Linked DNA regions of Homo sapiens: regions 1, 2, 3, 4 and 5 are each linked to region 6. The links come from fine-mapping of genetic effects on gene expression. A gene starts in region 6. Each other region holds a variant in brackets. All regions are shown on one strand. Distances are between the middles of the regions.

Region 1 (5,074 bases), 35 kb before region 6:
TAGTTTGATGTTTCAATATATATATGCATTGTGTAAAAATTAAATCAGGGTATTTACCATGTCGATCACCTCATACATTTATCATTTCTTTGTGGTGAGTACATTCAAAATTCTCTCTTCTAGCTATTTCAAAATAAATAATACAATATTGTTGGCCAGGCACAGTGGCTCACACCTGTAATCCCAGCACTTTGGGAGGCCAAGCTGGGCAGACCACCCAAGGTCAGGAGTTCGAAACCAGCCTGGCCAACTGGCAAAATCCCAGCTCTACATTTTTAGTTTCTATTTTTAACAAAACTTAGCTGGATGTGGTGGTACGTACCTGTAATCCCAGCTCAGGGAGGCTGAGGCAGGAGAATCACTGGAACCCAGGAGACAGAGGTTGCAGTGAGCCAAGATCATGCCACTGCACTCCAGCCTGGGCAACAGAGTGAGACTCCATCTCAAAAAACAACAACAACAACAACAAAAATATAGTTAAACATAGTCACCCTATTGTGCAGTAGGATGCAAGAACTTATTCCTCCTATCTAACTGCAACTTCGTACCTGTTGACCAATCTCTCCCTATCTCCTCTCCACTAACCTCCGCAGCCTCTGGTAACCACTATTCTACTCTCTATTTCTATGAGATCAACTTCTTTAGATTCCACATAGGAGGGGGATTGTGCGGTATTTGTCTTTCTGTGCCTGGCTTATTTCATTTAACTTAATGTCCTCCAGGTTCATCCAGGTTGCTGCCAATGACAGAATTTCCTCCTTTTTAATGGCTAAATAGTACTCCATTGTATATATATATATACCTACATATTATTTATCCATTCATCTGTTAATGGATACTTAGATTAATTTCATATCTTGCCTATTGTGAATAATGCTGCAATAAACATGGGAGTGCACATGTCTCTTTGACATATTGATTTCATTTCCCATATTTATTTCAATCCCAGTAGTGGGATCGCCAGATCATACGGTAGCTCCATTTTTAGTTCTTTGAGGAACCAGCATACTGTTGTCCATAAAGGCTGTAGTTATTTACATTCCCACCAACTGTGTGCAAGGGTTCCCCTTTCTCCACTTCTGTGCCAGCATATGTTATTTTTTGTCTTTTTGATAGTAACCATTCTACCTGGGGTAAGATGATATCTCATTGTAGTTCTGATTTGCATTTCCCTGATGATTAGCATGTTTAGCTATGATTAGCATGATTAGCAATGATGTTGAGCATTTTTTCATTTATCTGTTGGTCATTTCTGTGTCTTCTTTGAGAAATGTCTATTCAAGGCTTTTGCTTATTTGTAATTGGATTTTTTGGGGTTTTGTGCTATTAAGTTCTTTGAGTTCCTTATACATTCTGGATATTAACCCCTGGTCAGATATATAGTTTGCAAATATTTTCTCCCATTCTGAAGGTTGTCTTTTCACTCTGTTGATTGTTTCCTTTGCTATGAAGAAGTTTTCTAGCTTTAAATACTCACATGTTTTTCTATTTTTGCTTTTGTTCCCTGTGATTTTCAGGTCTTTTGCAAAAAAAAAAAAAAAAAAATCCTTGCATGGACCAATGTCAAGAAGCATTTCCCTGTGTTTTCTTCTAGTAGTTTTGTCATTTTATTATTTCAGTCTTAAATGTAAGTCTTTAATTCATTTTGAGTTTATTTTTGTATACGGTGATAGATAGGGATCCAGTTTCATTCTTCTGTATAGGGAGATCCAGTTTTCCCAGCATTATTTACCAAAGAGACTGTCCTTTCCCCAGTATAGGTTCTTGGCAAATTTGTCAAAAATCAGCTGGCTATAAGTGTGCAGATTTATTCTGTGTTCTCTATTCTGTTCCATTGGTCTGTGTGTCTATTCATATGCCAGTACCATGTGTTTTAGGTTACTATAGCTTTGTAATATATTTTGAAGGTAGTGTGATGACTCCAGCTCTGTTCTTTTTGCTCAAGACTCCTTTAGCTATACAGGACCTTCTGTGGTTCCATACAGATTTTAGAACTGTTTTTTCTATTTCTGTGAATAATGTCATTGGTATTTTGATAGGCATTGCATTGAATATGTAAATTGCTTTGGGTAGTACGAACATTTTAACAATATTAATTCTTCCAAGCCATGCACATGGGATATCTTTCCATTTATTGGTGTCTTCTTCAATTTATTTCATCAATGTTTTATGTTTCACCTCTTTGATTAGATTTATTCCTAGGCATTTTATTTTGTTGCTATTTTAAATGGGATTGGTTTCTTGATTTCTTTTTCAGATCGTTCACTATTGATGGGAAGAAACATTAAACCCAAAATTAATACGAGGAAAGAAATAATAAAGATCAGAACAGAAATAGAGACTTAATGGCCGGATGTGGTGGCTCATGCCTATAAATCCCAGCACTTTGGGAGGCCAAGGCAGGTGGGTTGCTTGAGCGCAGGAGTTCAAGACCAGCCCAGGCAATATGATGAAACCCCATCTCTACTAAAAATACAAAAATTAGTCAGGCATGGTGTGCTCAGGCGTGGTGGTGCACACCTGTAGTCCCAGGTACTCAGGATGCTAAGGCAGGAGGATTTTTTCAACCCGGGAGGCAGAGAATGGAGTGAGCTGATTGTGCCACTGCACTCCAGCCTGCGCAACAGAGGAAGACCCTGTCTCAAAACAAACAAACAACAAGAAGAAAAAAATCAACTCAAGAAGTCCCAAATCTTACCATGTAAATCATGTAAATCAGGCTTGGGTGCAACTCTGGGTATCATGAATGCTGAGGCAAAAATTCTCCTCATCTGTGGAAATGTGAAAGTATAAAACAAGTTATCTGCTTCCAAAATGCAATGATGGGACAGATATAGGACAGGCATTCCCATTCCCATAGAGAGAAAATGGAAAGAATAAGGGGGTCACTTGTCCCAAGTGAGTTCAAAACTCAGCAAGACAAAGCCAGGCACAGTGGCTCACTCCTGTAATCCCAGCACTTTGGGAGGCCGAGGTGGGTGGATCACCTGAGGTCAGGAGTTCAAGACAAGACTGATCAACATGGCAAAACCCCGTCTCCACTAAAAATACAAAAATTAGCCAGACAC[G/A]GTGGTAGATGACTGTAATCCCAGCTACTTGGGAGGCTGAAGCAGGAGAATCACTTGAACCTGGAAGGCAGTGCGGTTGCAGTGAGCCAAGATCACACCCCTGCACTCCAGCCTGGGAGACAGAGCAAGACTCTGTCTAAAAAAATAAAAAACCTCAGCAAGACAAATTTCATTAGGTCTCAAGGCCTGAAAATAATCCTCAACAGGCTGATGCTCTGTCTTCTGAGCCTACAGAAGCCCTGTCAGTCTTAAGGATGTCCTCAGAGTCATTCTTCCTTTTTCTTAAAGGAAACACATGTTTGAAGCTCAGTACCTCTATGAGTTCATATCCTGCCTGTGACATTTTGGAAGTCCAACAGCTTCTCTTCATTTAATTCTGCTTCTGTCCCTTTCAATTCAGGGTGACAGTGCTTCTGCTGATATAACATTCTCAAAACTTTGTGTGTCTCCTGTGCAACTCACAGAGTCCACACAATCAGGTAAGAGGGTTCTCCACAGCTCTTTCCTGGATAACCTCATCTCTATTCCTGGCTTCTGCTAGGATGGCTGATTGTTTCCATTAGCCAAATATTCAATCTCTTTAGAAACAAGAGACAGTAGTCAGAAACAAAAAGATTAGGCCAGGCATGGTGGCTCACACCTGTAATTCCAGCATTTTGGGAGGGTGAGGTGGGTGGATCAATTGAGGTCATGAGCACAAGACCAGCCTGGGCAACGTGGTGAAACCCCATCTCTACTAAGAAATACCAAAATTGACTGGGTGTGTTGGCATGTGCCTATAGTCCCAACTACTCTGGAGGCTGAGGCACGAGAATTGCTTGAACCTGGGAGGCAGAGGTTGCGGTCAGCCAAGATCCCACCACTGCACTCCAGCCTGGGTGACAGAGAGAGACCCTGTCTCAAAAAAAAAAAACACTCAACCTCTTTAGCAAATGGTTTTCCAGCCACTCTATGGGAATATGGGAATTCTCTCCAGAGTATGTTTTAGCATATTTTGAAATACAGGTAGACTGGGATTATTTCAAATCACCAAGTTATGGCTCCTTCTTGCTTAATAGTTCTTTCCTTGATTTAACTCTTTCCTCTTTCATTTTACTATAAATGCAAGGAGAAATCAGGCCACACCTTCAACACTTTGCTTGGAAATCTCCTCTGCTAAATATGCAAGTTCACTGCTTACAAGTTCTACTTTCCACAAAATAACAGAAAACAATTCAGCCAAGTTTCCTGGCACTTTATAACAAGAACCACATTTCCTCCAGTGTGCAATAATTTTTTTGGTTTCCTCATTTCCTTTTTTTATTTTTACTTTTTTTTTTTTGGCTTTTTTGTCTCCTCATTTCCTTCTGAGGCCTCAACAGAAACACCTTTCATTATCATATCTGTACAACAGACTGTGACAATATATGTATTCTCTAAAACAATAGCAGTTTTAATTACCAGCCTCTTCCCTTCCTTTTGAGTTCTCATCAGTATATCTCCCTTAATGTCCATATTTCTACCAATAGTCCCTTCAAGGCAATCTAGCCTTCTTCTGTCAATGCGTCAGAATTCTTTCAGCCTCTACCCACTAGCCAATTTCAAAACCACTTCCACATTTTTAGGTTTTTCTTTTTTCTTTTTTTTTTTTTTTTTTTTTTTGAGACAGAGTCAACCTCTCTCAACCAGACTGGAGTGCAGTGGTGCAATCTCAACTCACTACAGCCTCTGCCTACCAGGTTCAAGCAATTCTCATGCCTCAGCCTTCCAAGTAGCCACAACTACAGGCACATGCCACCATGCCTGGCTAATTTTTGTATTTTTAGTAGGAACAGGGTTTCACCATGTTGGCCAGGCTGGTCTTGAACTCCTGATCTCAAGTGATCTGCCCGCCTTGGCCGCCGAAAGTGCTGGGATTACAGGCATGAAACACTGTGCCCAGCCAATTTGTAGATATTTTTTATAGCAGCATTCCACTTCCCAGTACCAAAATCTGTATTAGATTCCTAGAATTCCCATAAGGAAAT
Region 2 (5,074 bases), 270 kb after region 6:
AAGATCACAGAACCAAGGCCCCAATTTGGGGTGTCAGTCCAGGTAGCGGGGTGTCTCCTCCCTCCAAATAATATACCTGGTTGATAATGACGAGGCTAAGAAAGTAAGAAATGAGGACAAAAGGCTGCAGTGGCTGACGGGCTGCTCTCTGATGTGACAAGTCTGTCCAGGAACCCCACTGCTGGGGATGGGGGTGGGGAGGTGCAACATTAGTGTCTCACCTCCTGTGGGGTGGAAATATGCATCAACACATCACAAAAGGGGCGAAAGACTCCATGACCTCAAACAGCCTCTTAGCATCTAAGCTATCCCAGGACCCACAGGGCCACAGGTACCAGCCCACGAACAGTGACTAGGGCTGACTTTCCAGGAAGCTGCTACGGATTCTGCAAAGCACTCCACAGGAGAATCAGCTGCCCTTTGGGCAAAACAGCAGCAAAGTGTCCTCTGTGGCCTCAGATGGCTGCTGGTTCCAGAATCCAGTTTGTTCAGAGAGAGGCCCTGCCTGGCAAAGGCGGCCGTGTTTCTAAGCAGAGCTGTCGAGTTGAACCTGTCCCTCCCCGGAGGTGTGATGTGGGCTGTGGCTTGCAAAGGCACCATCGTTTCCCCTTCCTGCCCTTGATGACTTGTTGGTGGCACTCTCCCCACAGACGAGGGGCTCAGGGATGCCACCACAGCCGTGCTGCGCCACCCGCTCCCTGGGTCCGCAGCCAACTTGGCAGCAGAGGAGGACGGCCTGCTGTTCTTAACGCTCTGGGGCTAGGTGTTGATTCTGCAGCTCTCTCACGCAGGGGAAGGCTTCTCTGGGAGACACTGGCTCCCCTCGCTAGGCTGACCAGGCTGTCTTCAGCTTTCGCACCTCCTCCTGCCTCTGCCCCATGGACTCCAGGCTCCTGCCCTGTCCCCAGCTTCCATCCAAGGCCAACACCTCTTCCTGCCCTCTCTTTCCCTGGGCACCTGACCCTGACTTCGTAACCTCTGTGATCCCCCATATGTCAGCCAATTCCACGTTTTATATCAGGAAATCGCATCCCAAAGAGTGTTTCCAAATACCTCAGACAGACTGGGATTTCAGATGGTGAAGTCAGAATTCCTGCAAGTTCTTAGGAATTCTCCAAATCATAAGTTATTCTTAAACTATTACTAACATCCTTCCCACTACTTATCCATTATCATAGACATCTAAAACTGTTTGCTTAATAATATTGAGCTTAGTAGGATTTACAAAACACGACAGCCTAGAATGAATATACAAACGCTGGGAAACACAAGTGAACGCTGCTGGGAGCTGCTGAAAGAACCACACAACACAGGCACCTGCTAGCAAGGCTCATGACGCTACAGAGTCTGGTGTCCAGAATGCCAATTTAAGGACTTATTGTGCTTCCAAAACTTTTTACTTCTTGGAATGCCACTCACAGAAAGTACACAATTTACATAAACATATTAGTATTTATTTGCAAGAATGATTCATTGTTTGCAGTAGACAGAGCCAGGAACACACAGTTACAGCATGGCATCAGTGCAAGGCAATCCTGACTAATGAGATCGTGACCACGTCTCTCCCACATGTTCCTGTCCTGGTTCCTGTAAACGGCGACCCAGACCTGCAGCTCCATGTGGTGACACCTCCTGCTCCTGCCTCTCCTCTGTCGCTGTGGATTCCTCCAAACTGTGATTGCTACATCTTAATTTTCAGCAGGACGGTTATAACACACTCTCCGACCTCTTGACTGGTTTTTCTTGTGACGTGAGAGGGGAGAAGACATACATTTCCTGAGGCATGCCTGGGAGAAACTGCTACCTGAAGGCAGCTCACAGGCGGCCATCCTAGAAGACGTTCACTCTGCCCTCGCCTGGCTCTGGGCCTGCCTTCAGGATGCACGTAGACCAGTTTCTGACCCCAATGCTTCCTTTTCATCTCATCTGCTCCCAAGCGGGCTTCCCCTCCTTGTCCCCTTGACCTCTCTGCACCCAGATATTCAGCCTCAAAACTCGGCATCTTCTGCTGCTCCCCTTCCATTGCCCCAGCAGGCAGCCTAGTCACCTACTCAACTCTCACCGTCCTCATCCCAGAGAATGGCAATGCCGCTGCTGCCCCCTTGCCATGAGGACCACGGGGCAGATGGTGCTGCACACCTGAGACAGTGGGGCCCCACGTCCCCTCTTGGTAGGGCCTTCCAAACCCATGTCCCCCTTTCCTCTTGGCCATCTGGGTCAGGCCCTCCCTGCCTTCTGTCTGCAACATTTTGAGGGCACCCTAGCCCATCGCCCAATCCATCCACTATACCCAGTCCTGGCGTGCTCTTCGGAAAGCACAGCCCTGAGTTCACACACCTGCCAGGGCTCCAGCCCCCAGAGACCAAGACTTCCACCCCAGGTCCCAGTGCGCCCTGACCATAGGGCCAAGTGCCCTGTTCTCCAGGCACAGGGGATGACTTGGGGCTCCCTGCTTCTTGCAGCTGTTCTGCACACCTGGGAAGAGTGGCTTCCCCTTCGATCCAGATCAAACCCTGCATATCAAATTGGTATGAGAGGGTGGGCTTTAGTGATGTCAGGAAAAATTTAAAATGCACATACCCTCTAAGCCAGAATGGCTTCTACACATCAAGCCTGTAGCTCTACCTGCCAAAATGTGTATCCATCGAGATGTTCCAGACTACAGTCTGGGGGAGAAAAATCTGGAAACCTCTTAACTGTTCAAGTAGAGCAAGGGTGAAATAAATTATGAAACAGCCATTACGGTGGATACTATTACCTTTCAGAAGGACTGAGCCAGTTTTATTAAATTAAGAAAGGTGGCCAGGCACGGTGGCTCACGCCTGTAATCCCAGCACTTTGGGAGGCCAAGGCGGGTGGATCACTGGAGGTCAGGAGTTTGAGACACTCCTGGCCAACATGAAGAAACCCCGTCTCTACTAAAAATACAAAAATTAGCTGGGCATGGTAGCGGCCACTTGTAATTCCAGCTACTCAGAAAGCTGAGGCAGGAGAATCGCTTGAACCCAGAAGAGGGAAATTGCAGTGAGCTGAGATTGCGCCACTGCACTCTAGCCTGGGCGACAAGAGCGCAACTGTTCCCCACCAAAAAAAACAAAAAACAAAAAAAAAAAACGAAGGCAAATTTCA[G/T]AACAGTGGAGTTTCTATTTGACTTACATAAATATTGATGATTTCTGCAGTTACACAAAAGACTTGACAGTGAGTGCAAGGGTAGGTGTGCATGGGGTGGGTGCTGTTTACTTCCTCATCTTCTTTCTGTAGTGTTTTAGGGTTTTTCCACACTAGAACTTCATCACTTTCCCTAAAATATCTGCTCCCCACAATCTCCTTCCCCGAGGCTCCCTGTCTGTTGGTACAAACAGTGACACACATACAGTGCTTACTATGTGTGATGCGCTGTTCTAAAAGCTCCTAAAAGACCACTTTCCTCCTCAGTGGAAGAGCCAAAGACTATCAGCAACTCCAAAATCAACACCGCACTTTCTATGTGGCTACCAGGGGTCTCAAACTCACCTGCCTTAGAGGGCCAAGTGGTTGATGTAAGTCAGCAGAGCAGGCCAAGGGGAAAAGCAAGAGGGAGTAGTTGGAACGGTGCCGAACTGGGACACACTTGCCCATGGAAAGTCACATGCATGGACACTTTACTGAACACACACCTAACCAATATGCCTGCAGCTTTGAGATCTCTTGCATGGCATCACCACTCCTTACTGGCAACTGGGTAACGCTGAGGACTTTGGAGTCTGGAAGGTTCTGGCCAGTCCACAAAACAAGGGAAGTCAAAAGTTGCTACTTCCTGTTAGCAGTGACTTGCAAAGCAGCTTAGGTTCAAGTGACCCCTGGCAGTGCACAGGTCAGGGTGTGGCATCGCTGAGCTAAACGTAACCTGCTCACTGGGAGAACAAGGCAGCTCATATTTCAGCAAAAAATGGATATATTTCACAACCCTAAGAGAGAATGCAGCAGCAAATGGGGGCGGCGGCGGGGGAAACCCAGACTGGGTTTTCTGCTGAAAATCCAGTTGGGAATTTGTGCTGTGACCTACATTACTCTGCCACCTTCCAGCCCCCTAACTTTCTCTCTCCTCAAGGAGCAGGAGAACATAATGTATTTCCCAAAGTTAAATTACTCTGCAGAAAACCATTTTAATAATGCGCTAAATGACAGCACGGCAAATCACTGAAGCTGTCACCGATTTGCGGTCCAGTCTCACTGAGCGAATTCTTGGAGTCCGAGCCTCCCTCCACGAACGGTACCTCACATCTCCCCGGGGATCTCTGCCATCTGCAAAGTGTCACGTCTCTTAGTAACCACCCCTTCCCCAAATGTCAGACGACGAACACAGCACGGGGCTTCCCAAAGATGTGGGTGTTGGGAGGCTGGCACTCATCTGTTCCTTGTCTTGGGGAGTAGACTCTGGTCCCCCCTGGGCCACACTGATATACAGAGTTCAAAATAGAAAAGAAATGCCCCACTTCCCACCGGCCTACTTTCCAATTCAGAGCTGGCATTAGCAAGGGAGGCAACGGGAGGCACAGAGACTGGGAGGAAAAACTCAACCTCCCGATTCTTCAACTCAGATTTGTGCAGATGGCAGATTACTTAGAAGTCATGATGCCTCTTACAGAACACAGTGAAATATGGACACGTCAAATGGAATTTAAAAATGGAAGAGTGTGTGTGAAAGCAGGTTCCATCTAATACTGGACTGAAAGTTTTAAGTAATATTTGTGAGGAAAAACACAAGCAATTTCTACCCACTGGTTTTTATCTTTCCTGCCCACCTTCTCAGTTCCCAAACCAGAATGGGACCACCATTCCTGAAGCTGATCAGTGGCCCTGTTCACAGAACACACAGTGGCACAGTGTGCAAACCGAATGCATCATGAGTAACGTGGATGTCCACAGATTCAAATGGAGGGGCCGTGGGAGCAGTGGAGAAGAGCCAGGACTGCAAACTCCAGAGCCAGGTAGTCATGCAGGCAGGTGATCCACCCAAATGTATGACATAACCAGGCAAACAGCATGGAGGGGATGCTGGCTCAGTGCCCAGGAGACAACAGGAGATGGGGGT
Region 3 (5,074 bases), 21 kb before region 6:
TATATTTCTTTATGCAAATTGGTCAGATGTTCTAAAAATCATATAGGAAGGCTAGGTCTAATAGCTCAGGGTCAAGATTTAGCATTGGAAGTCTTAAGGTCATTAGTCTTCCTTTCTAAAGTTACCTCTTAAGAAAATTCATAAAACTAGTGAATTCATTCACTTTGGATGGATCTTTCAGTTCTCACTTGAGAGAACAGATTTAAAAGGGTAACCCATTGAGATAAACACTGCAGTCCATGTTGGAATAACCAGATTAATATTTCTAAAAAGTAATCAGATTAATTTCTGTGGAAGGCAGTGGAGCTTAATGGTTAACTGTTGGGAGCTTCAGACTTGGATGAAACTGGCTTCACATCCCAGCTTTGCTCTTCAATTGCTGTGGCAGGTAGACTCGATATGGCCCCAGTGATTCCCACCTCCTGGTCTTTGTGCACTTGTGTAATCCTCTCCCCTAAGTGTGTATTGCCCTGGTGGCTTGATTCTAACCAACAGAATATGGTCAAAGTAATTGGATGCTACTTCTGTGATGAAACTACACAAGATGTGAGTTTTGTCTTGCTAGAAGTTTCTGTCCCTTGCTGCTTTGATGAAGCAAGTTTCCATGTTGTGAGCCACCATGTTAGAAAGTGCCATGTGCCAAGGAACTGAAGGTGGCCTCCAGCCAACAGGAAACTGAAGCCCTTGGGCCAAGAAACCTGAAGGAACTGAATCCTTCCAACAGCCATGTAAGTGAAGTTGCAAAGCAGACCTTTCCCCAGCTGAGTCTTCAGAGGTGACCCCCACCCTGACTGACTCCTCAGTTATAGCCTCTTGAGAACCCATAAGCAGAGTATTTAGCTAAGCTTTGCCCAAACTCCTGGCTCCCAGCAACTGTCAAATAATAAATATTTGTCATTTAAGGCTGCTAAGTTTGTGGTAATTTGTTAAGTAGTGTATTAGTCTGTGCTCATGCTGCTGATAAAGACATAGCAGAGACTGGATAATTTATAAAGGAAAGAGGTTGAAGGGACGTGTTGGACTCACAGTTCCAACATGGCTAGGGAGGCCTCACAATCATGGCAGAAGGCAAAGGAGGAGCAAAGTCACGTCTTACCTGGCAGCAGGCAAGAGAACATGTGCAGGGGAACTCCCTTTATAAAACCATCAGATATTGTGAAACTCACTACCACAAGAACAGTATGGGGGAACCACCCCTATGATTCAATTATCTCCACCTGGCCCTGCTCTTGACACGTGGGGATTATTACAATTCAAGTGAGATTTGGGTACAGACACAGCCAAACCATGTCAAGTAGCAATAGATCATCAATACAGTAGCTATGCCACCTTGGATGAGAGAATTAACCTCTCTGAGCCCAAGTTTTTTCTATGTAAAATGTGGATGCCAATACTTACTTCTCAGCGTGGCTGTAAAGATTCAATAAAACAAATGCTTAACATTGGAGCTGGCACCTTGTCAGCTTACTTTAAATTTACTTTTATTTTATTGATAATATTCTGTACTCATGATGCACACCAAACTCAGGAAATAATTAATGTGATATACAGGAATTTTAAATATATAAATCAGTTTTTTTAGAAATCACATACCAGGAAATTCAATGTTACAGTTGTCACAAAAGGAGGCACAGTTTCAGTTTTGTAAACAAAAAATAAAATTCTAAGGCCCATGTGAATGGACCCCCTCCTCTTAGCCAAGGACATTCCAAAGTTAACCTAACTAGTTCAGACCATGGTTGGGGGAGAGTCGGACATGCCTCCTTATACTCTCCCTGCTTTTGAAATTCAGGAAAAGCCAACCAGCATTAACATCAACACAGACCTTAAAGTTGATAAGAAACATTTACAGGCCAGGCACGGTGGCTCATGCCTGTAATCCCAACATTTTGGGAGGCCAGGGCAGGCAGATCACTTGAGGCCAGGAGGAGTTCAAGACCAGCCTGGGCAACATGGTGAAAACCCATCTCTACTAAAAATAGAAAAATTAGCTGGCCATGGTAGTGGATGCCTGTAATCCCAGCTACTCAGGAGTCTGAGGCAGAAAATCGCTTGATCCCAGGAGGCAGAGGTTGCAGTGAGCCAAGATCACATCACTGCACTCCAGCCTGGGCGACAGACAGAGCAAGACTCTGTCTCAAAAAAAAAAAAAAAAGAAAAGAAAAGAAAAAAAAAA[A/C]ACCATTTACAATCTATTATCTCCAAAGCCTGCTACCTGGAGGCTTCTTCTGCATGATAATACTTTGGTCTCTACAACCCATTATCATAGCCGAGATATTCCTTTATATTGATTCCAGGTCTTTAGATAATAACTTAACTCTTTTAGTCAATTGCCCATCAGAAAATCTTTTTTTTTTTTTCATAATTTCATTTTCTTTTTTTCTTTCTTTTTCTTTTTTTTTTTTTTTGAGATGGAGTCTCACACTATTGCCTGGGCTGGAGTGCAATGGTGTGATCTCAGCTCACTACAACCTCCGCCTCCCGGGTTCAAGCGATTCGCCTGCCTCAGCCTCCCGAGTAGCTGGGATTACAGGTACCCGCCACCATGCCAGGCTAATTTTTTGTATTTTTAGTAGACACGGGGTTTCACCATGTTGACAAGCTGGTCTTGAACTCCTGACTTCGTGATCCATCCGCCTCAGCCTCCCAAAGTGCTGGGATTATAGGAGCCACCACGCCCAGCCCAGACAATCTTTAAATCAACCTATAACCTGGAAGCCCCCGTCTCGAGTTGTCCTGCCTTTCCAGCTCGAACCAATGTACATCTCACATGTATTGATTGACTGATGTCTAGTTAAAAGGTATAGAAGCGAGCTGTATCCTAACCACCTTGGGCACATGTCATCAGGAAATTCTAAGGCTGTGTCACAGGCATGTCTTTAACCTTGACAAAATAAACTTTCTAAATTGATTGAGACCTGTCTGGCACATCTGTTTGGGCTCACAGTTTCTACTGCCTGATTCTTGTGCAATGCAAGTTGAGGGGGGCACCTGAGTATCTGCATGCCAGAGGAAAGATCACCCCAAAGAGAGGCAACGGGAAACAAAGATCCACAGAAAGAGGAGTGCATACATACTTCATAAGAGTAAACCAGTTTAGGGCTGGGCACAGTGGCTCAAGCCTGTAATCCCAGCACTTTGGGAGGCCAAGGCAGGCGGATCATCTGAGGCCAGGAGTTCGAGACCAGCCTGGCCAACATGGTGAAACCCTGTCTCTACTAAAAATACAAATTTAGCTGGGTATGGTGACTCACGCCTGTAGTCCCTGCTACTTGGGAGGCTGAGGCAGGAGAATTGCTTGAACCTGGGAGGTAGAGGTTGCAGTGAGCCAACATTGCACCACTGCACTCCAGCCTGGGTGACAGAGTAAGACTCCATCTTAAAAAAAAAAAAAAAAAAAAAAGAGTAAACTGGTTTACCCATAACTTATAGTTTAGTTTGCCAAGTGTGAGGGATATTGGGGAGCCCCTTACACTATTGATGGGAAAGAGAACATGGTGACAAAACCCATCAACAATTTATGTGTATGTGCTATTTAGCCCAATAATCCCATTTCTAGGAACTTATCCTAAAGAAATTCTCCAAAAAAGAGCACCAATATATTTAAGCTGTTTATTGCAATAGTCCTCATAGATAGTAGGTTGAACCATATGAAATGACTGGTATTTGGCCATTTTTGACCAATGAACACAGCAATTTCATAGAGTTCTACCTAAAAGAACAGCATTTGAAACAACTTCAGAATCCACGTGCAACTGTAAAACTGTGGACTATTTTATACATACACATATATGGCATATCAACATTTACATACACACACATATATATTGGTATATATGACATCAGCGTATTAAGTAAAGAAAACAGCTGACAAAATAACATTCCTAGGCCATGCAAAACAATGACTTTGGGAGGTCAAGGCCAGTGGATCACTTGAGTCACAGGAGGTGGATCACTTGAGTCCAGTAGTTCAAGACCAGCCTGGGTAACATGGTGAAACCCTGTACCCCGTCTCTTAAAAAAAAAAAAAAAATTAGCCAGGCATTGTGATGCATACCTGTAGTCCCAGCTACTCAGGAGGCTGAAATGGGAGGAACACTTGAGCCTGGGAGGTGAAGATTGCAGTGAGCCATAATCACACCATTGCACTCCAGCCTGCGTGACAGAGCAAGAACTTGTGTCAAAAAAAAAAAAATTTAGCGAGGCATGGTGGTGTGTGCCTGTAGTCCCAACTACTCAGGAGACTGAGGTGAGAGGATCACTCGGGCCTGGGACATCAAAGCTGCAGGGAGCCGTGACTGCGCCACTGCACTCCAGCCTGGGTGACAGAACAAAACCATGTCAACAACAACAAAAAAGAAAATAAAAGAAACTCATTTGTCCTTTATTGCTTTAGTATTTCATGAAGACCATAATTTTATCAGGCAATAAAACTTCCGTGGAGGTTTAAAGAAGTTCCTTCAATTTCACACATTACCCTTTGCATTAACTGTAACGTCAGAACACTCAGATGGCCAAGAAAACATGAACAGTCCACCAGCAAAAAAGGGTTGGATAAGGAGAAAAAAAAAATTGGAAAGAATTCGATATACAATATTTCAAAAATATAAGCATCTAAGTGCCAATGATAGAAAAACATCAGAATTTTATTGGGCTTTCTCATCCTGATTTTGGTATTATTTCCATTACGAAGAAAGGGGCACTACGATTGCAGTTCTTGGGACTCTAAAAGCCTTGAGCCAGTGTTAGCTTCATGTAATTTTTAACATGGACTTGACCCAGGACATACTGTTTCCAAAGAACAGCTTCTTCTCATAAGGCAGGGACAAAACAGGAAAGCAAATCTCCTTGCTCTCTTGTTTTTGAATGTCTTTTGCTCTAATAATCTGTGTCAAGAACTGCATGGCTGAATGTCATACTGTGTTGTGCTTGCGGCTGTTGTGCACATTGTGATAGAGATGTTTACAACTGGATGGTGGGTTGTCACAGCACAGCACTGGGGACAGTGGCCAGCACTGCTCAGGAACACAGCTGAGGGCCGGGCGCAGTGGCTCTTGCCTGTAATCTCAACACTTTG
Region 4 (5,074 bases), 440 kb after region 6:
GGGAACAAGACACGGTTCTTAAAATGAACAACAATTCTACTCGTGAAGTAAAATTAGAAGATCTCTAAAGCACACTGTTAAATGAGGAAAGGTAGGACACAGAACAAGGAATTCAGCAGGCTACTCGTTATTAACATGTATAGGCATGTGCTCGTTATTAACATGTATAGGCATGTGCTCGTTATTAACATGTATAGGCGCAATAAAGCGGTGTACTGAGGCATCACTCATACCTAGAAAGAGAAACCCAAGACTGGTAACAGTTACAGATTCCAGGTAGGAAAATCAGGGGGTAAGAGAAAGGAAGAAATTTATTTCACCCTTTTTTACTACTTAACTTCTTAGCATGGGGATGCTAAGGTTTGTCATGAGTCTAAAAATTTTGATACTTCCCAACTGTTAAAAGCAAAAATATTACCATTAGTATATCATATTGTATAATATGAAAAAAAGTTTAAGAAAAAAATAAATTTAAAAAACCAAAAATTTAATTTTTTAAGTCAGATCCAGAAGTGCCACTTCTCAGTGTGGGATGCTGGGAGAGTTGCATCATTTCTGAGTCTCAGCTTTGTCTTCTGCAAAATGGCCATCATAATATTAATTACTATTAGGCCACGTGAGGATTAAATGAATTACTAATATACAAGAGGGAAGCCAAATTTTTGACTGATATCAATTAATAAATATTAGCTATTAATATCAGCAGTTATTCATTTGTACAGGTTAATCGGGTTTTATTATCCACAATGAGAATGATGCACTGACGTTGCTCTCCAAAAATTTATCTACAGTGACAACAGTCACCTACCATTTACCACCTGACACTGAACCTGTCCTAAGAAATGGGACCACTGCCTGGTTCCTGACTGCCCACTGAGCCCCTCTCTTGCAAGGCTAGCCTTGGAGTAGGCTGGGACCCCTGGTGTTGGGCAGGGACAACAGAGAGGCTGGCCCACCTTCAAGACCTACCCCACTCACACTGGGAGACAGGTCACAGCCAGGCCTCCATCCCCACATCCCATTGTCCTTTCTCAGAGGAGGTAGATTAGATGCTGCCCAAGTCTCTAATGTGCAACACGGGTGGCAGGGCCACTGCAGGGATGCTGGAACCTTGGCTGGTGGAAATGGGTACCGTAAGGGGACCCCCTCTCCCATACCCGTTCCTGCAATTCTCTAGAGCTGGTGTAGCTTGGAGAAAGAAAATGGGCTTTGTAATTAAACCGGAGTCTGAATCCAGGCTCTATTACATACACACTCACAGAATGACTGGAGGCTTCTCTGAACCTCAGTAAACCTGTAAAATGGAGATGATATCACCTCCCTGAAAGGGTTCTTAGTATACAACAGGTCCTTCCTAAATATGCTTCCTCTTAAGGAAACTCCTAACTACCTACTTAAAGAAATCCACAAAAACATGTACAAAGTCTTGGAGCTGTCAGGAATTAGGGAAGCAAACTCAGTCAGGGACTGCACTATTAGGCTTTCAATACGGTAGGGGGTGGGGGGATGGGGATTACATTTGTATACTGGCCCCACTGAAACAAATGGGGTCTGGTGTGAACTCGCACCTCCAATAGTGCTTTCCTAGACCAACATTTATGAGCCTCCTGATGGAAACACACACCACCACCTGTGACATCGTTGGGGCAAAAAACCAAACCTGAAACTCATCAAGCCTCCAGAGTGAATGACCAATTTAAAGGCAAGGTAAGGGACAGAGGAACATGACAAACATCACCATAGGATTGCAATTAGCAAAATCCTAACTGGGAAAACCTACAGTTCAAGGAGCCAAGTGTCTTCCACAATAATGACAAAAAAGACAAGGGAAAAAAGAGAGTGACAGCAAGGGAATCTACAAATTAACAGAGCCTGAAGAGGCACACCAACCAACTGCACTATATGAACTTTATCAGGGTCCTGATCAACACAAAGACATGGAAAACTCTTTTGAGCTAACTGGAGAATATTGAACACTGACTGGGTATTTCATGATATCATGAAATTACTGTTAACAATAGGTGTTAGGCCAGGTGCGGTGGCTCACGCCAGTAATCCCAGCACTCTGGGAGGCCGAGGC[G/A]GGCAGATCACTCGAGATCAGGAGTTCGAGACCAGCCTGGCCAAAATGGAGAAACCCCGTCTCTACTAAAAATACAAAAATTAGCCAGGCATAATGGTGGGCGCCTGTAATCCCAGCTACTCAGGAGGCTGAGGCATGAGAATTGCTTGAACCCAGGAGGCGGAGGTTGCATTGAGCTGAGATCGCACCACTGCACTCCAGCCTGGGCGATACAGCATGATTCAGTCTCAAAAAAATAAATAAATAAAATAAAAATAGGTGTGATAATGGTATTGTGAATATATTTTAGCAGTAAATATTGGGTATTTATGAATGAAAGCATAAGATGGATTGGATATACATCCAAATAATGTGAGTTGAGAAGTAATGAGTAGAGTATGAGCAAAGCAAGAATGACCTTGAGTTGATTATTACTGAGGCCGAGTGATAGGGACATGGGTTTTTGTTACATCATTCCCTCTGCTTTTACGTATGTTTTAAATTTTCTACTTTTAAAGTGAATGATTAAGCCAAAGACTAGGAGCAGATATGTAAAATACATGTAACTGAAAAGGAGATATAAAAACAGTGAGAAAGCAAGAAAACCAAATACTGTGCAGTAGAAAAATGGACAAAGGCTGTGAGAAGTCATATGTGAAACCCAGAATGGGGAACAGGCAAATGAAAAGATAGGCAACCTCATCTGTGGTCAGGGAAATGCAAGTTAAACCCATCTCATGCAAAAAGGTATTGGTAGGTACAAGTGGGAAAACATGAACCATTTTCCTTCTGCTGTCATACCACAACCATCAACAAAGACGACTTCTTGGGACAAAATGTGTGGGGGTTTCTCCCTACCACCAAACAATCAGTTCTGCAGCGGACACCAGCTGGGTGTCCTCTGATTCAATTCTGACACATCTACCTGGAGACAGCATCAGATCCCACAGGGTGAGGCTCAGTCCCACAAGACCGCCCCTCACTTCTGATGCCAACCACAAGCCCCAGGTTATTTTACCTGTACTTCTGACTCACTAGCAATAAAATGCGGATCTCACAACCCCCTTCTTGGGTTCCATTAATTTGCTAGAGCAGCTCACAGAACTCAGAGAAACACATTTTCTGGTGATTATAAAGGATATTACAAAGGATACAGTGAAGACATGCACAGGCCAAGGTATGGGAAGCGGTGCGGAGCTTCCATGCTCTCCCCATGTATCAACCTCCAGGAATCTCCACTTATTCAGCTACCTGGAAGCTCCCTGAATCCTGTCTTCCTGGGCCTTTTATGGAGACATCACTGGATAATCAAGATTAACAACGTGATTGGATAAAAAGGGTATGGTCTAAGACGAACAGACTGAGTGGGGAGACCCTGCAAGGCCTGTCTGTCCAGATGCTTCCTGGCTTCTCTGTGCAGTATTCTTTCCTCCAGGGTGCGGGGCTGGACCCCTTCTGAAATGGGGGTCTTGTGACCTACAATCAGACAATAGGGGTCAATTTCTTTATGGATAGCAGGGGAAGATTAGAGTCCTGCCTTGGGTAGAAAAAGGAAGAGGTGAAAAGAGAGCAGGAGAAGGTCAGAGAGATTCTGACCTGGGTTCAAGCAATTCTCATGCCTCAGCCTCCTGAGTAGCTGGGATTACAGGCGCCCACCACATGCCTGGCTAATTTTTGTATTTTTAGTAGAGACGGGGTTTCACCATTTTGACCAGGCTGGTCTCGAACTCCTGATCTCAAGTGATCTGCCCTTCTTCTGAGGCCTAAAGTGCCTCCAACATTACAACAAGGGCTACGGGAATTATGGGCCAGGAACAGCGGATGAAAACACAAATATATAAAATATCACAGCAGGGATGTAAAAGCGTCAGCAGGAACTTTTGCACACAAACAGGGGGTTAATAAATAGGTGCTTTTACTTTATAAAATGGCAAAACTCAGTAAAGTTTAAGACGCCATACACTAAAACGCCGCAATTTCACACTTAGGTACTGACCTTAAAGAAACGTTTGTGTAATGGACCCAGGAAGTGATAAGAGATGGCTGTTAATATCACAAAAAGATAGCAAACATTAGGCATCTCCTGACAGAAAACACCACCCAACGACACAGTCATATAATCAGCAAAATTAAACCTGAATCCAAGCCTCTAATTTAAGGAAATACAGGAAATGAAGAAGCATATCGAATCACACTACAGAGATACCATCAGCAAAGCTGAGGGGTTGAAAACCTCTGTAAGGCAAATCCAGTGTCTTCAGTAAACAAATTATGAGAGAGAAGGGGAGAGAGAGAGATGAGAGAAGACTCTGTTGAAGAAAAGAAACCTAAGACAGTAGTGGATTCATAGAGGAACAAAGTAGAATGGTCGCCAAGGGCTAGGGGGAGTGGGGAGCAGGCACTGACTGTTTAAAGGGGACAGCTTCAGTCGGGGAAGATGGAAAAGTTCTGGAGAGGGGTGGTGGCGATGGCCTCAAAATGTGTGAACGTACTTAATGCCACTCAACTGTACACTTAACGATGGTTAAAATGGTACAAGTTATGTTAGGTATATTTTACCCTAATTTTTAAAATTTAAAGGAAAAGCAACATAGAGACATATTAACCAATTACAATGCATGGGTCTCACATGGATCCTGAATCAAAAAAACTATTCAAAGGTATGAGGCAATTGGAAATTTGAACACTGACTGTGATGACACAAAGCAATTACTGGTAATGGGGGTGATAAGGATATTGTATTTTTTTTTGTATTTTTAGAGATAAATACAAAGATGTCTATACATGAAATAATACCCAGAATTTGATTGAAATGATATAGGAGGAGGAAGCAGATGTAGATAACCTGAAACACAATTGGCCGTGACGGATAATTGTTCACCCTGACAAAGGATATATGAGCGTGCATTACACAGCCTGCCTGAATGTGGGCATTTTACATAATAAAGAAGTTGTAAAATGAGGAAGCTATTATATGTCTGCACAAAAGGACAAGTGTTAGATGCTCACGGCATT
Region 5 (5,074 bases), 110 kb after region 6:
TCTACTTATCAGCAGGTAATATCCGTATCACTTGTGAGTTGGTTTTCATGAACTGACTTTTTTTTGGTGGGGGTTGGGGTCAGAGTCTCACTCTGTCACCCAGGCTGGAGTGCAGTGGTGCCATCTTGACTCACTGCAACTTCCGCCTCCCAGGTTCAAGCAATTCTCCTGACTCAGCCTCCCAAGTAGCTGGGATTACAGGCACACGCCACCACATCTGGCTAATTTTTGTATTTTTAGAAGAGATAGTTTCACTGTATTGGCCAGGCTGGTCGCAAACTCCTGACCTCAAGTGATCCGCTCACCTTGGCCTCCCAAAGTGCTAAGATTACAGGCATGAGCCACTGCACCCAGGCCACAAGCTGACTTTTGTATGGGAAATGCTTCGCCTAGAGGGGTCAATAGAACTTTTCGGTAAAGGGTCAGATAGTAAATATTTTGGGCTTTGTGGCTCTATGGTCTCTGTAGCAACTACTCAACTCTGCCTTCATAACAAGAGAGCAGCCACAGACAGTGCAGTGTTCCAATAAAACTTTATTTCCAGAAACAGGTGGTAGGCCTGCCGGTGATAATTTTCCAACTCTTGGCTTAGAGAAATGTTCCCATTACAGGGTGACGCTCTTGCTCTCCCCAGAACCTTGTCCACATTCTGTATGTGTCTAAGTTTAGGATGCATCTGACGACCCCATTGTAACAACTGCCTGACTGACAGAAAGGTCTGCCCAGAACAAGCCTCCTGAAGGTCTTCAGTGGAGGGCGTGCCTGGGTGAGGCACATGTTCCCCTGAAGACCAGGATGTGATGGATTGCAGACAAGAGGGTCCATGGTGCATGTAAGATGTCTAATAATTGGGTGATCAGCTTCACATGTATTAGAAAAAAATAGAACTAGCTTATCAATTTAAAGAAAATGATTTAATTATCACCTGAGCTCAGGAGTTCGAGACCAGCCTGGCCAACATGGAGAAACCCCATCTCTACTAAAAATACAAAAATTAGCCAAGCGTGATGGCACACACTTGTAGTCCTAGCTACTTGGGAGGCTAAGGCAGGACATTGGCTTGAACCTGGGAGGCAGAGGTTACAGTGAGCTGAGATTGCGCCACTGCACTCCAATCTGGGCAACAGAGCAAGATTCTGACTCAAAAAATAAAAAATAAAAATAAAGAAAATGATTCAGTAAATAGTAGTATGAGTACTGTGCAGATAAGGCAAAACTTGGAGGTTTGTACAGGGGGAATTAGCGTCTGGGCCGGTGGGCAGGGGGTCCTATAACATGGCAGGTGAACAGACAGGATTTGGCTTCTTAAGTTGCTTGGGATAAGCCACTAAACATTTCTCTGCCTTAGTTTTCCCACTTGTAAAAAGAGGGTACTCACCCCAACCTTGTCAAGTTGGTGTATCCCTTAAGGAGAGTCATATATAAAATCAAAAAGACAAGTCAGGCCAGGCGCAGCGGCTCACACCTGTAATCCCAGCACTTTGGCAGGCTGAGGCAGGTGGATCACCTGAGGTCAGGAGTTCGAGACCAGCCTGGCCAACATGGTGAAACCCCATCTCTACTAAAAATACAAAAAATTAGTGGAGCGTGGTGGTGAGTGCCTGTAATCCCAGCTACTCAGGAGGCTGAGGCACGAGAATCACTTGAACCTGGGAAGGCGGAGGTTGCAGTGAGCCGAGATCACGCCACTGCATTCCACCCTGGGCGACTGAGTGACACTCCATCTCAAAAAAAAAAAAAAAAAAAAGAAAGTCACTTAGCACCATGTCTGGCTCATAGTGAGCACTCACTAAGGGCGTGTTTGTTGTTCTGTATGATCCCGAACCGTTTGGGGACCCCACAGCAGGCAAATGTGCTTTATCCATTAGCTAGACCGGCATGCTTCTCACCCCTGGGGTGCTGGCGTCCTTCTTGCGGGCGTTCTTGAGAATCTCCAGGACAGGCGGACCTGGTTTGGGGACATGCCTGCTGCCTGCTGATATAGCTGTGTAGATTTGAAAGGGAAAATAATGATCAACTCTGTTCAAAATGCAAACTATAGGAAGTAAAGCTAGACAAAATTCTCTTGGCTCCTGGGATATGCGGGAAGATAGACGATTACAGCCAGTCTGAGAGTTTTCAGGGTAGATGAGGAAGGCATGCTACTTTTAATTTTAACAAAAGGGGGTACTGGTTTAAAAGGATGGTAGTCGCTGAAGTAGATGAAAAATTCTTACAGAATGTAGTGATAAAATTTGATCCTTTGTTTATTTTTTAAAGCACACACCTGTTTCAAAAGAAAAAACCTTAGACAAATTAAAGTTCACAGTTTAGTTGAGCAAAGAATAATTCGTAAATCAGGCAGACCCTGAACCAGAATAGAGGCTCAGAAAGACTCGAGCACAGCCAAATGGTGAGAGATTTGTGGGCAGAAAAAGGAAAGTGGAAAGTGAGGTACAAAAACAGCCAGATGGGTTACAACTCAGCATTTGCCTTATTTGAACACAGTTTGAACAGTTGACTGCCTGTGATTGGCCAAAACCGGAGATTGGCAAGAGTATGTTCTATTCTGTTTACACATCCAGTTCACTGTGTATACAGAGAAACCTTTGGCTGAAATTAAAATGTATAAAGAAGGCTGGGCATGGTGGCTCACACCTGTAATCCCAGCACTATGGGAGGCCGAAGTAGGAGGATCGCTTGATCCTAAGAGTTCGAGACTAGCCCAGGCAACATAGTGAGACTCTGTCTTTGCGAAAAGGATTTTTTTTTTAACTAACCAGGCATAATAGTATGCACCTGTGGTCTCAGCTACTCAGAAGGCTGAGGTGGGAGGATCGCTTGAGCCCCGGAAGCCAAGTCTGCAGTGAGCTGTGATTGCACCACTGTACTCTATCCTGGGCAACAGAGCAAGATCCTGTCTCAAAAAA[A/G]TAAGTAAATAAAAATAAAATATGTAAGGAGGCAGCTTGAGCCTCAACTTAATTTAACATACCTCACCAATTAAGTGTTAGTAAACACACCTTTGAATGTATAATTTCATAGTCAGATTTTTTTACAAATGCAGCAAACCTGTCCACAGGGCAGTGACAATCATGTTACAGTGCCCTCCCATTTAAAATGAAATTTTTAGGCTGAGTGTGGTGGCTCATGCCTGTAATACCAGTCCTTTGGGAGGGCGAGGTCGGTGGATCACCTGAGGTCAGGAGTTCAAGACCAGCCTGGCCAACATGGTGAAACCCTGTCTCTACTAAAAATATAAAAATTAGCAGGGTGTGGTGGCGCACACCTGTAATCACAGCTACTCCAGAGGCTGAAGCAGGAGAATCGCTTGAAGCTGGGAGGCGGAGGTTGCAGTGAACAGGGATCGTGCCACTGCACTCTAGCCTGGGTAACGAGAGCAAAACTCCATCTCAAAAAAAAAAAGGGGGGGGTTTTTAAAAAACTATCTCACACTCATGCCCCCGCCCCCCCCCCCACCTTTTTTTAAGCATCCATAGAATCCAGAGTTTGTGGGACCTTATCAGCTAGAGGAAGTTTACCCTCTTTGTTTTATTTCCTCAGATTTAGTCTTGAATTCATTTTCCCACGTTTGGCCTATTTTTTAGGTTCCAATCAGTTCACCGCAAAACATCACACACTAGTCATTTAATGTCTGATTCTCATTCACTATAAACCTAGATAAAAGACTAACTGCCAAAGCTACATCTGGTGTAAAGTGATGGATTAGATTTCTCACTTTGGAGGTATCCTTAACAGTTGGGCTAATTAAAGTTGAAATCAAGTCCTGATGGTAAATATTTATAAATTGAGAATCTGGCGTGTGTAAATGTATGCTGCTGATTCCTAAAGTTAAATCAACGTTTATCCATTCAGCAAATAGCATGGATCCCACGCTAGGCACTGAGGATGGAGGGATGAACAAAACAGAGAAGTTTCTTCTCTGAGGTTGTAGATTGCTCTTCAACTAAAAATGTCTGGGTTTTTCTGTTCTTTTGTTTTTTGTGAGAGGGTCTCACTCTGTCACCGAGGCTGGAGTGCAGTGGCGCAATCTCGGCTCATTGCAACCTCCACCTCCCAGGTTCAAGTGATTCTCCTGCCTCAGCCTCCCAAGTAGCTGGGACTACAGGTACCCGCCACCACACTTGGCTAATTTTTGTATTTTTAGAAGCTATAGGGTTTCACCATGTTGGCCAGGCTGGTCTCTAACTCCTGACCTCAGGTGACCCGCCCACCTCAGCCCCTCCTAAAGTGCTGGGATTACAGGCATGAGCCAACACAGCCGGCCAAGTAAAAATGATTTAATTTTTTAATTTCATCACAACATTTCAAAAAGGAGCCCCCAGAACATGGGGAACAGCAGTGTCTGTTGAAGTTTATGAAGTCAAAATATTATATCTTCTCCTTTGAGATCATGTTTCAAAAATAGCAATTAGTGTCATTTTGAAATTAGCAGTGAGATTCCTTTGTAAAATTCCAGTATCTCCAGCTTAGTGAAACGCTCATTCCGTCTACTAGTTCAAGTTATTTTTTATTTACTGCACTTGCCTTCACTTAAAAGACATTTTCCCTATTTCCCACAGTGTAAGTACAAATCTACAACATTGCTTTGTAAAATAAGTTCAAAAATGCTTTGATTTCATTGCCTTTTAAATTTTACTTAAAAATGTTTGCATATGAATTGATTGAGTTGAAAGTAAAAAAAAAATAGCATGGCCAGGCACAGAGACTCACCCCTGTAATTCCAGCACTTTAGGAAGCCGAGGTGGGCGGGTCGCTTGAGCCCAGGACTTCGAGACCAGCCTAGGCAACATGGTGAAACCTGTCTCTACAAAAAAACACAAAAAATGAGTCCAGGCATTGTGGTGCACGCCCAGCTACATGGGAGGCTGAGGTGGGAGGATCGCCTGAGCCTGAATGTTGAAGTTGCAGTGATCCATGATTGCACCACTGCACTCCAGCCTGGGTGACAGAGTGAGACTCTCAAAAGCAAATACCACTCATTTAGGTGAAGCCTCCTGGGTGCCAGACATTGTCCTGGGAGCCCCTCTATCAGGACCTTAAAGGTGCCTTCTCCAGGTCTTCGGCACAGGTGTGG
Region 6 (5,074 bases):
AGCTGGGATTACAGGCGTGCTCCCATGCCTACCTAATTTTTATATTTTCAGTACAGATGGGGTTTCACCATGTTGGCCAGACTGGTCTCGATCTCCTGACCTCAAATGATCTGCCTGCCTTGGCCTCCCAAAGTGCTGGGATTACAGGCGTGAGACACTGTGCCCGGCCAAAACAGTAAATTTTTTAAAAAGGTAACCAACTTAATAGACCTTATAGTTGAGTCGGGAAAGTCAACATTAAATAAATAATTACACCTGAAAACATATAATTATCAACTGTGCAAAGTGCAACAAGGGACAAGAACATAGTGCTCTAACAAAGAATGAGGGAGGCCTAGTTTAGATCAGCAAAGTGTGCAAATGGGTAGGGCATGGCCTCTCCACAGAAGTGTTATTTAACTGCAGGCCTTCATGTTCAAATGGGCTTTAGCTCAGCAGGGGAAGATACTTTTTTGTTTGTTTGTTCGTTTTTCAGACAGAGTCTTGCTCTTTCACCAGGCTGGAGTGCAGTGGCGCGATCTCAGCTCACTGCAACCTCCGCCTCCCGGGTTCAAGCAATTCTCCTGCCTCAGCCTCCCGAGTAGCTGGGATTAAAGGCACGCGCCACCACATCTGGCTAATTTTTGTATTTTTAGTAGAGACAGGGTTTTACCATGTTGGCCAGGATGGTCTTGATCTCTTGACCTCGTGATCCACCTGCCTTGGCCTCCCAAAATGCTGGGATTATAGGCATGAGCCACGGTGCCCAGCTGGGAAGAGGCATTTTAAGCAGAAAGAACTGCATATGCAGAGAGGGAAATTAATTTGCATGTTTAATGAACTGAATGGCCAGTATGACTGCAAAGCTAGTGAATAAGAGGCAGGGTCTGTTTCTATAATTCATTCTCTCCTTCACATTTCTTTTAATTAAAAAAAATTTTTTAATAGAGATGAGTTCTCACTATGTTGCTCAGGCTGGTCTTGAACTCCTGGGCTCAAGTAATCCTCCTGCCTAAACCTCCCAAAATGCTGGGATTACAAGCATGAGCCATTGTGCTCAGCTTCCCCTTCACATTTTTTTTTTTTAAAGACACAGTCTCACTCTGTCGCTCAGGCTGGAGTGCAGCGGCGGGATCTCGGCTCACTGCAACCTCTGCCTCTCGGGTTCAAGTGATTCTCCTGCCTTAGCATCCCGAGTAGCTGGGACTACAGGCGTGCACCACCACACCCAGCTAATTTTTGTATTTTTAGTTGAGATGAGGTTTCACCATGTTGGCGAGGGTGGTCCCGATCTGTAGACCTCATGATCCGCCACCTCCACCTCCCAAAGTGCTGGCATTACAGGCCTGAACCATTGCGCCCGGCCTCCTTCACATTTCTTGGGACTCCTCCTCTGGGCCAGGCCATGTTCAGGGAATAGGGTTATAGTGATTGATTAATAATAACAATGGCTAATATTCATTGAGTACCTACCATTTGTTATTAGAACTATTATTCTAAGCACTTTGATACATGAACTCATTTAAGCCTTTCTGCAACCCTATGACCTAGATGCTACTATTGTTTCCATTTCACAGATAGGGAAACTGAGGCATAGAGAAACTATGCAATTTTCAAGAGCATACAACCAGTAAGTGGGTAGAACCGGGATTAATCCAAGCCCACTGACTCCAGGACTCATAGGCATTTATACTCTTAACCACTATGATTCATGGGTGACTCTTGTCAAGGATTAGAGAACAGTAGTTATGGCCATATTAGCTACTCAAACAGTGCTTTGGATGTAGGCAGCTAGTTTAGAAAAGAATTTCCCAAATTTGTAAGATCATAAGAGCTCCCCTGCAGTGCTTGTTAAAAACAGATCATTTTCAGGCCAGGCACTGTGGCTCATGCCTGTAATCCTAGCACTCTAGGAGGCCCGGGTGGGTGGATTGCTTGAGCTCAGGAGTTCCAGATCAGCCTGGGCAACATAGTCAAACTCGTCTCTACTAAAAATACAAAGTATTAGCCAGGCATGGTGGCGCACGCCAATAGTGCCAGCCACTTAGGAGGCTGAGGTGGGAGAATCACCTGAGCCCAGGAGATCGAGACTGCAGAGATTGTGCCACTGCACTCCAGCCTAGGCAACCAGAGTGAGACCCTGTCTCAAAACAACAACAACAACAACAAAACACAGATCATTTTCATAGAGATTTGGATTCAATAGGTCCATTCTGGAATTTGTATTTTCAACACGTTTGACAAATGCTGGCTAAGTAGTTCACTACAATGGCTCTTGAGTTGAAGAGACACTAATTTGGTTACTCGCAGCTTTACTACCTCTCTAGATGTGTGTCACCTTGTGCAAGTTCGTTCATCTCTCTGAGCGTCAGTTTCCCCAAATGACGGATGCAGCTAATAACAGCACCACCTCCTAGGGCTGTAGTGGGGATTAAGTGAGCAGCGTGCAAAGTGCTTAGCGCCCTGCCTGGTGCATAGCAAGCAAAGATAATAACAGAAAGATGGTGGCAGCCACTGGGAAGTTCAGGCTGAGACAGTCTTCCAAGACGTCCACCTTTTCATCTTTTTTTTTTTTTTTTTTGTATTGGCAAGGTCTCTCGCCGTGTTGCCCAGGCTGGTCTCCAACACCTGGACTCAAGCGATCCTCCCTCCTTGGCCTCCCAAAGAGCTGGGGTTACAGGCGTAAGCCACCCCAGTGGCTCCTTCTGACTTTATGATAGAGTTGTCAGATAAAAAAAAATCAGGACGCTTCCATTCAAACCTGCAAAAAGAGAAAAATTTAAAAAAATTAGGACGCCCAGTTCAATTGGAATTTCAGATAATGAAAAAAAAATTTAACGTAAGTAGCTCCCAAATACTGCATAGGACATATTTATACCAAGTCAGTCATTCTTTAAAAAAAAAAATCTGAAATTCCAATTTAACCGGGAGTCCTGCATTTTTACTTGTTAAATCTAGTAACTCTGCCTTTAGGGAAGGACTGACCCCAAAGCCTTATCCCCGCCCACGCGTGCCCTAGACAGTCTCCACTCGCCAGGCGCGCAGGTCGATCCCAGAGGGGCCGCTGGCGCCTCCGCTCCGCCCAGGCAGCACTAGTGGCGCCCCGAGCCACCGGGCCCCTCCCCGTCCCGCCCCAGTCCCGCCCCGAGATCAAAGGGCGTCGCCCAAAGCGGGACAGGTCCAGCGGTTGTTCTGTGTGAAGTCGCGCGGCTTCCACCCACGCAGTGTTCTAAGTGAAGGCCAGAAACTCGCTCGCCATGTCGGCTGCAGAGGCGGGGGGTGTTTTCCACAGAGCCAGGGGCAGGACCCTGGCCGCGTTTCCCGCAGGTACTGCCCGCCCCTCACCCGGGGAGGGGACTCTGGGGCTGCGGAACCTTCCGCCGGGGGAACCTTTTGTTCAGGTGTGCGCTCCGCCAGTCGGACACCATCCGGGGCTGCACCGGGGCCTGGGAGCCGCCATAGCTGCATCAAAGCCTGCTCTTAGGGATTCCAGGGGCGCAGTTGAGAGGCGAGGCCGAGAGAGCGATCTGGTCTAGGAGCCTCCTTGGCCTTGACCTAACTTCCCCCAGAGAAGGGAAGTAAGAGGAGGGTAGCAAAGCATAGTTAATGACAGCTTGGACTCTGCAGCGAGACCTGGTTTCCAAGCTGTGCATTAGCATCTTGGCCTCAGCTTCCACATCTGTGAAACGGGAATACTTGTGGGTGTTACTGGATAAGCGTTCGGTGCATGTTAGAGGGTGTCGGTTTTATTAAGGTTGTTCACCGTTATGTATTCTGTACTCCATAATGACGTTTATTTAAGTCATTCACCGAAATGGTAACACTGCCCCATCAGAGCAGTAGAGAGGGAGGGCATTCGAGAGTCGTAGTGAAGTGCTTGGATTTTGGATTTAGATTATCTGCTTTGCCTTAAAAATGGGTTTGATAATACCTGCCTCATAGGGTTGTTGGAAGCGTAAACAGATCAAAAGTATTTTTGTAACCCGGTGTTGGACGCATGCTAGGTGCTAAGTAAAGAGGGAGGTTTGTTTCTGGTTTGTTGATTCCCCTCTGTGGCTTTTTGCTGCCTGCAGCCAGATCGCCTCCCAGGCTCTCACCAGCTTTATACCCCCAGGGAAGTCACCCTAAATGCCCTATATGATCAGGCTTGTGTCCACTTCCTTCAGGGTTGTCATTCTCTCTCTTGCCCAGTTCTGCAACAGGTTTTGTTGTTGCCCTTGTTTGAACTGCATTTAAAAGGGCCAAGGCCGTTCTTTCCCTGAGGGTCTTGGCGCTTGCTGTTTTCTGCTTCTTTAGCAGGGTTGGTGAGCCTGGCTCTCTCAACCGTCACACCTCATTTTAAAGTTCATTCACTTCCTCAGAGACTTTACCTGCTACCTTATCTAAAGTAGGTTTCTCCGGTAATTCTATGGTAAAACCTTATTTATTCATTTAAGGCGGAGTCTTGCTTTATTGCCCAGGCTGGAGTGCAGTGGCACGATCTTGGCTCACTGTAACCTCCGCCTCCCGGGTTCAAGCGATTCTCCTGCCTCAGCCTCTGGAGTAGCTGGAACTATAGGCACGCACCACCACGCCCGGCTAATTTTGTATTTTTAGTAGAGATGGGGTTTCTCCATGTTGGCCAGGCTGGTCTCGAACTCACAACATCAGGTGATCCGCCGTCCTCAGCCTCCTAAAGTGCTGGGATTACAGACCTGAGCCACCGCGCCCGGCCTGGGACGACTGTATTTTAATGGACCTTGTCTTTTTTGTCCAACATGAAGATTTTGCTCTTTTCTTGCTGGGCAACATTCCATTGGATGATTATATACCTTATACATTCTGTTGATGTATATGCTGAATATCTTCCCTTTGCCTCTCCAAACCTTTCTCCCTTCCCCACCATGCCCCAGGGGTTTGCCCTCCGTGAGCTACATCGGTGGGCTCCTTGCCTTTTGGTTTTCCTTTGGGCTCAGCCAGTGGGGAGCCCTGAGAAGAAATCAGAGCAGGGAGAGAAGCAAAAGGCAGCTGTATTTATTCTTGCAGTTTACTCTGTGGGGTTGCCTCGCCTGGCTGTCTTCCTCCCCACCCCTGAAGGTCAAGGTCGCTCCTTTTC

What was found.
Region 1: its variant is fine-mapped to the expression of CPPED1 in sigmoid colon (GTEx, PIP above 0.99).
Region 2: its variant is fine-mapped to the expression of CPPED1 in whole blood (TOPMed, PIP above 0.99).
Region 3: its variant is fine-mapped to the expression of CPPED1 in whole blood (TOPMed, PIP 0.98).
Region 4: its variant is fine-mapped to the expression of CPPED1 in transverse colon (GTEx, PIP 0.98).
Region 5: its variant is fine-mapped to the expression of CPPED1 in whole blood (TOPMed, PIP above 0.99).

The regions. Positions count from the first base shown.
Region 1 is chr16:12,837,106-12,842,179 of GRCh38, reverse strand. No RefSeq gene overlaps it. Among named protein-coding and RNA genes, the nearest start is that of CPPED1, 36 kb to the right of the region's middle. The variant G/A (reference allele first, on the strand shown) is at 3,069.
Region 2 is chr16:12,528,582-12,533,655 of GRCh38, reverse strand. All of the region lies in intron 20 of SNX29 (sorting nexin 29), which reads right to left. It also overlaps a transcript of SNX29-AS3 not described here. Among named protein-coding and RNA genes, the nearest start is that of SNX29-AS3, 80 kb to the left of the region's middle. The variant G/T (reference allele first, on the strand shown) is at 3,130.
Region 3 is chr16:12,822,837-12,827,910 of GRCh38, reverse strand. No RefSeq gene overlaps it. Among named protein-coding and RNA genes, the nearest start is that of CPPED1, 21 kb to the right of the region's middle. The variant A/C (reference allele first, on the strand shown) is at 2,177.
Region 4 is chr16:12,357,077-12,362,150 of GRCh38, reverse strand. The region is part of intron 16 of SNX29 (sorting nexin 29); the gene reads right to left. Among named protein-coding and RNA genes, the nearest start is that of SNX29-AS2, 13 kb to the left of the region's middle. The variant G/A (reference allele first, on the strand shown) is at 2,081.
Region 5 is chr16:12,693,112-12,698,185 of GRCh38, reverse strand. The region is part of intron 3 of CPPED1 (calcineurin like phosphoesterase domain containing 1); the gene reads left to right. Among named protein-coding and RNA genes, the nearest start is that of MIR4718, 25 kb to the left of the region's middle. The variant A/G (reference allele first, on the strand shown) is at 2,910.
Region 6 is chr16:12,801,939-12,807,012 of GRCh38, reverse strand. It overlaps CPPED1 (calcineurin like phosphoesterase domain containing 1), which reads left to right and starts at 3,126. Exons shown (of 4, transcript NM_018340.3): 1 at 3,126-3,306. The coding sequence starts at 3,237. RefSeq lists a silencer at 3,045-3,094 and enhancers at 3,175-3,544, 4,867-4,946.